2 linked regions of the Homo sapiens genome follow. The protein of the gene in region 1 interacts with the protein of each later gene in a pairwise test. Each region holds a gene or a part of one and is shown in the gene's direction. Other genes may lie near its edges.

Region 1 (3,183 bases):
TGCTGGCTCTCCGAGGCCACAGGCCCTTCCAAGGCAGGATTTGGGCACTTTCCCTCTGTGGTTGGCAGGTGTCCATGTGGGAACTGAGGCCACCGGGAACCTGCTGCCAGCGCCCTCCCATGTTTGTCTTCTTGGCAGCGCCATCAGGGCAGTGGCCAAGAACACCACCCCCGGGGCAGCCCTGCCTGCGGGGGAGTGGGGGACCGTGCAGCTACGGGGTTCTTGGAGAGTCGGCCAGACGGCGGGGGGCAGCAGGAACTTTGCCTCATACCCCACCAACCCCTGCTTCCCCTTCTCGGTCCCCGAGGGCCCTGGCCCCCGCTGCGTCCGCATCACTCTGCATCAGCACTGCCGGCCCAGTGACACCGAGTTCCACCCCATCGGCTTCCATATCTTCCAGGCAAGCTCCTTGCCCCAGGGAGGGAGGGGGAGCAGAAGGGGCCCTCAGAGAATTTGCATCTTGGCCTCCATTGTCCCAACAGAGGGCTCTGGGCTCAGTCACTTGGGCTCCCCCTGCCCTTCGAGGCGCTGCCTAGAACCCGCACAGGGCCCTCTCCCATCTCCAACCTCTCAGAGGCAAGGCCGAAGATGGCCTCTGGAAGGGCCGGGGGCCTGGGAGGTGGGCAGGGCTGATCCAGGCAGGGCAGGTTTCCAGAGGAGGTGGTGAGTGGGGAGGAAGGGAGAAGTTTGGAGAGGACAGGAGGCCGAGGTTGAGACCAGCGGGGGTGGGTCGAGCCCTGGCTTGGGAACGCAGGGGGCTGATGGACTCAGGAGTGAGAGGAGGGGAGGCCCAGGCTGGCTGGCCACAGCAGCCCCTCGGGTGTGAGGAAGTCCACAGTCACTGAGCTCAGCCAGCAGCCCCTTGTCCACTTACCCTGACTCAGAATGACTGTGTCCCAAGGTTCATTCTCTGCAGACATGTGTCCCCTGGAATGCAGGGGCCCTGACGAGGAAGGCACTGCAACCCTCGGTTCACAGTGGGCTGCCTGGGGACCCTTGGACCCTCGCTGTTTGCCCTGGGCCACCGGCTCAGGTCCCCTAGAGCTCTGAGGAAAACACATGCCAGGGCCAGTGGGAGCCCTTGGGGCGGGCTGGGCAGTCACAGGTGTTAAAGCCCCTGATGATGTGACAGGCCTCCAGGCGGGGGCCCCACTGCCGGCACCTTCTGGCAAGGGTGGCCAGGCCTTGGTGAGGAGGCGAGTCCAGTGTCCAGGCCTGGCAGCCCCTCCTCAGAGAAGGGGCTGTATGTGACTCAAGAGGGCCAAGGGCATCCGAGCAGATGGCCCTGGGCTGGGCTCCCTACCCCAAGGCTGGCCCCCTCAGTCTGAGCCTGCGCTTTCCTCAGGTCCCAGAGGGTGGAAGGAGCCAGGACGCACCCCCACTGCTGCTGCAGGAGCCGCTGCTGAGCTGCGTGCCACATCGCTACGCCCAGGAGGTGAGCCGGCTCTGCCTCCTGCCTGCGGGCACCTACAAGGTTGTGCCCTCCACCTACCTGCCGGACACAGAGGGGGCCTTCACAGTGACCATCGCAACCAGGATTGACAGGTGGGGCTCTGGGACTTGGGGGCGGCCAGCTGGAGGCTGGGGTGCTGGAGTCTTAGTGCTCGCCTGTCCCCCCACGTCTCCTGCCTGCCCCTCACCCTCAAGCCCCTATCTGTCCTGGCAGACCAGGGCTGTCCTGCCTACCTGGGGACCCTTCCTTGCTGGTCTGAGCCTGGAAGGAGAGTCTAGTGGGAGGTGGGCCAGGAGCACACAGCCACTTGTGTGACAAGTGCAGTCTGGGAGCGCTGATCTGGTGTCTCTCCACAGGCCATCCATTCACAGCCAGGAGATGCTGGGCCAGTTCCTCCAAGAGGTGTGTATGCAGCCCCGCCAGCCCGGCTCACCTGCCTGGGGCTGCCTGGTGGCCTAGGGTCTACCTGCAACCTCAGGCAGGTGGTTTCTGCCTGGGACGTGAGGTGCCCTTGACTCTTCCTGTGAGAGCCCCGGGCGGTGCCTTGAAGGGCAGGGGGAGCTGAGGCTGCGTCCCATTCCCTGGCTGCACTCGGGGTGGGGTGTGAGAAGGGGCGAGTGCCACCGCTGCCCGGGCCCCCCATCTGTCTTTGCAGGTCTCCATCATGGCAGTGATGAAAACCTAACAGGGTGGCCCCCTGTGCCAGCTCAGGTGACTGGAGCCCGAGGGCCTGACAGGTTCCCAGCAGCTGGGCCGGCCAGCCTTGCACTGTGGGGGCTGGTCCTGAGTCTTGGCCTGCCTCCCAGCCCTGCCAGGAGGCTGCGGCCTAGGGGTCCACGGGAAGCCTCCGTCAGGAGAGACGCAGCCCTGGGGGCCAGCTGGTGCTGCAAGGAAGGGTGGGAAGCTTGCTGGCTTCTGTTGCGCCACTGAGACGGCAGAGACCCCAGGATCCCAGAGCTTCCCAGGATCCCTCCCAGATCCTCTGCTGACTCCATATGGAGGCCTCACACCCAGAGGGTAGGGCAGCAGATCTTCTTTATAACTATTTATTGTTCGAATCACTTTTAGGATGTAACTTTATAAATAAACATGAGCGCTGATGATTTGCAGATCAGTCTTGCTCCAGGTAGTTCCAGGCTGTGCCTGCTCTTGCCAAGCAGGCTGTGGGGAGGGCTGGGTGCCTGCCGAGATGGTGAGGATGAGGATGGCCTCTGGAGGGGCTGGGGGCCTGGGAGGTGGGCAGAGCCAACCCAGGCAGGGCAGGTTTCAGGGGGAGATGGTGAGTGGGGAGGAGGGGAGAAGTTTGGAGGGGCGGGCCCAGGGCATGCCCCAGGCCAGGGGGCTGAGGTTGAGGCTGGCCGGGGCAGGTCAAGCCCTGGTCTTGGGGGACACAGACTGATAGACTGGGGAGTGAGGGGTGGGGAGAGCCAGCGAAGGCACTGCCAAGGCTGTGGCGAAGAAGGACATCTCGGAAACGGGTGTTAGAACCGGAGTTGCGCAGAGGGAGGAACCCCAGGTTCACATGGACTGGGAGCCTTGGATCTGGACGGCTCCTCTGCCTCCAGCCAGGGTTCACCTGCGCAGTGTCCTAGGATTGTTTATTTCCCCAGGCCTCTCTCCCTCGTCCCTCACACCAAATGCTGTGATGAGAGCTGTAGTGTCACTGAACGGTGCAGAAGACAGTTCCAGACATGGGTGGGGAGGGCTGTCACTAAGCCCTTTTGTTTTAG
Region 2 (3,812 bases), on another chromosome or scaffold:
TAAAAAAAATTTTTAAAGATTGTCTTTATATATGATTTTGTGACTCTATTTTTTTTTCTTTTGTTTTGAGACAAGGTCTTGCTCTGTCACCCAGGCTGGAGAGCAGTGGCGTGATCCTAGCTTATTGCAGTCTCAAACTCTTGGGCTCAAGTGATCCTCCTACCTTAGCCTCCAGAGCAGCCAGGACCACAGGCATCTGCCATAACGCCCGGCTAATTTTTGTACCATTTGTAGAGACATGGTCTGAATTTGTTTCCCAGACTGGTCTCAAACTCTTGGGCTCAAGTGATCTGCCCACGTCGGCCTCCCAAAGTGCTGGGATTACAGACGTGATCCAACATGCCTGGGCAAGAATACCTTTCGTTGAGCAAATTGTTGAGAGGTAGAATGAGGAAAACTTTTGGCTAAAAGGGACCCCAAGATATCCCAAGTGGCATATTTATAGATGTGAAAGTGATTCCACAGCTGGGCATGTCAGATCAAAATTCTCCATGGATCAGGAATGCCTCCTTTTCCTTTTCTGTCACCACCGGTCACATTTGGCTACTTAATTTCTGGGCTCCAGTGCAGCATGGAAACGCGAGGCCCTTTGTTCAAAAAGTGTTCGAATTTCTTTTCTTCCTTCTTTTTTTTTTTTTTTTTTTTTTTTTGAGACGGAGTCTCGCTCAGTCACCCAGGCTGGAGTGCAGTGACACGATCTCGGCTCACTGCAGCCTCCATCTCCCAGGTTCACAGTGTGGAGAGGCAGGGCACGGTGGCTCATGCCTGTAATCCCAGCACTTTGAGAGGCTGAGGCAGGAGGATCACTTGAGCCCAGGAGTTTATGACCATCCTGGGCAGCTTAGCAAGACCCTGTCTCTAAGTAAAATTAAAAAGTTATAGCCAGGTATGGTGACACACACCTGTAGTCCCACCTACTCCAGAGGCTGAGACAGGAGGATTGTTTGAGTCTACGAGTTTCAGGCTGTGGCGAGCTATGATCATGCCACTGTACTCCAGCCTGGGCAATAGAGTGAGACCCTGTTTCTCTCTTTCTTTCTCCCTTTCCCTCTTTTTTAAAAAAAAGACATTGTGGAGAGTGTGTGTGTGAGTTTAGGGTGAGGGGGACTAATTGCTGTTCTAAGAGTTTCGTAGTTGGGGGGGTGATAAGGAGGGGATGGGGGGTGATGAGGAGAGGGATGGTTGGTGGGTGGGCCTCTTATCCCAGGAGATAAGCCAAATTGAAATGAAGGCGCAAAACAAGGGAAACAAAATGGGACTAACCGTGGTGGCATTTCCTGGCCTTGGGGCCTGAGGGAGGGAAGACTGTGGAATTTATTTAGAAAACTTCCAAACCAGCGGTTATGAGTCTTTTTTACTATTCTGGCCTGTTGCTCTTGTTCTTTTCAGAATTATAAATGTGTTTGTGTGGCTGTTTGATCTCAAAGCAATGCTCAGAAGATGCAGTGTCTCGAAATCCCAGAAGATAAGATGTTACCACATGAAAGATGGTCTCAATAAAGGGGGAGAGGCGGTGGCCGAGGCCTTAATTTCCAAAACGAGAAACTGGGGCCCACCCATCTTTTAAAGGTCGTCAAAAGAAAGCTCCCATCCTCCCATCCCCCACACCTGTGTGTTGACTCTGTAAAGATGCAGTTTCCTCACTTTGGGAGGAGAGGCCGTGGTTTTTGCAGGAATTGCGCCGCTGCCGAATTCAGCCATTGCCTCTTGGAGGTTTAGGATGCCCCAGGCCTTGTTTTCCCTCAAAGCATTCCATTGGCAATCACGACCAACCATGCTCCTTGAGGATTTCTGTACACACTGGCTTTTCCTGGTCTTGTAAGTTTTTATACGAGTCAGTTTTCACCATAAATCATGGAGGTGGGTCTGGGGCTGTGACGGCGAGTCCTCGACGTTCAACCCGGATGTAGGTCACTCCAGACCCCCAGGGTGCCCTGTCGTTCCCTTTGCTGGAAGTTTCAACAAAGCCAGAAGCAGATGTCAGGGGTTCCCGGGGTCATCTGGGAGGGATGTCCGCTGAGTTTAGGGGCAAGCTGGGACTGCTGCATTTCTGTTCCTGTACGTCAGAGGAAACTAGCAACACGCCTCAAACCACTTTACACCATGTCTCAGTGTTAAACCAGAGCCTGTTTTCACAAACACCTCCTGCGATCTCATTACAGCCCCACCCTGCCCTCCTGCTTCTGTGGCCTTCTCTACTTTGCTTCTTGCTCCTCTTAAAGACCTTCTGTCTCATCTGTCTTTTCTGGGGTTGGGCCTTTCCCCTTCTCTATAACCTTCTGTGACTCCCACGGCTCACAGCTTTGCTGTATATTAGGAGCAGAAAGCAAGCTTCATTACATCATTTAAAATTTTTTAGTAGCTACATTTTTTTTTTTTTTGAGATGGAATCTCGCTCTGTGGCCCAGGCTGGAGTGCAGTGGTGTGATCTCAGCTCGCTGCAACCTCTGCCTCCCAGGTTAAGTGCTGGGATTACAGGCGCACGCCACCAGACCTGGCTAATTTCTGTATTTTTAGTAGAGATGGGGTTTCACCATGTTGGCCAGGCTGGTCTCGAACTCCTTACCTCAAATGATCCACCCATCTCAGCCTCCCAAAGTGCTGGGATTACAGGCATGAGCCACCGTGCCTGGCCGCCACATTTAATGTATTTATTTATTGATTTTTGAGACAGAGTCTCACTCTGTTGCCCAGGCTAGAGTGCAATGGCGCAATCTCAGCTCCCTGCAACCTCCACCTCCCGTGTTCAAGTGATTATCCTGCCTCAGCCTCCTGAGTAGCTGGGATTACAGGCGCCCAATATCACACCTGGCTAATTTTTGTATTTTTAGTAGAGACGGGGTTTCACCATGTTGGCCAGGCTGGTCTCAAACTCCTGACCTCAGGCGATCCGTCTGCCTTGGCCTCCCAAAGTACTGGGATTATAGTCGTGAGCCACTGTGTCTGGCCTCTTTTTTATTTATTTTGTTTTTATTTATTTATTTTTGAGACAGTCTCGCCCAGGCTGGAGTGCAGTGGCGCAGTCACGGCTCACTTGAACTCCTGGGTTTAAGTGATTCTCCCACCTCAGCCTCCCAAGTAGCTGGGACCACAGGGGTGCACCACCATGTCTGGCTAATTTTTAATTTTTTTGTAGAGACAGTGTCTCCCTATGTTGCTCAGGCTGATCTAGAATGCCTGGGCTCAAGCCATCCTCCTGCCTCAGCCTCCCAAAGTGCTGGGATGACAGGTGTAAGCCACCATGCCCGGCCTAGTAGCCACATTTTGAAAGGTACAAAGAAACAGGTGAAATTAACAATACATTTTACTTAACTTCATATATCTAAGCTGTGGTCATTTTAATATATCAATATAAGAAATTATTAATGAGATATTTTACATTCATTTTTTCCTACTAAGTTTTGAAACCCAGGGTGTATTTTTACATTGACATTCTATCCCAAATTGAATGCTAAATTTTTATCAAAAAACATTTTGATCTATATTCAGTGTTCATCAAATTTACCATTGAAAAAATGATTCATATATTCAAGTTGTCCCAGACTTACATAAAAGCTTCCCAATAATTGAATTGTTAGTTTTCACATTTAAATTGCTTAAACTTAAATACAAGTAAAAATTCATTGGCAAGTAAAAAGATGAAAAAGAAGCTAAAACAAAAAAAATTCAGTTCTTCACTCACACTAGCTCATTTCTTTTTTTCTTTTAGACATAGAGTGTCGCTCTGTCACCCAGGCTAGAGTGCAGTGGCATGATCATGGCTCACTGTAGCCTCCACCTGCTAGGCTCAAGTGATCCTCCTACCTCAGCCT

The links.
Region 2: the proteins of CAPN10 (region 1) and LITAF interact in a two-hybrid assay, tested with the Homo sapiens proteins (one large-scale study listed by IntAct).

What each region holds. Positions count from the first base shown.
Region 1 is NC_000002.12:240,596,543-240,599,725, forward strand, and holds the end of CAPN10 (calpain-10), read left to right. Parts: intron 1-138; coding exon 139-400; intron 401-1,345; coding exon 1,346-1,545; intron 1,546-1,809; coding exon 1,810-1,855; intron 1,856-2,108; coding exon 2,109-2,138; 3' UTR 2,139-2,562; downstream 2,563-3,183.
Region 2 is NC_000016.10:11,559,152-11,562,963, reverse strand, and holds part of LITAF (lipopolysaccharide-induced tumor necrosis factor-alpha factor), read left to right. Parts: intron 1-1,797; exon of another isoform or gene 1,798-1,818; intron 1,819-3,812.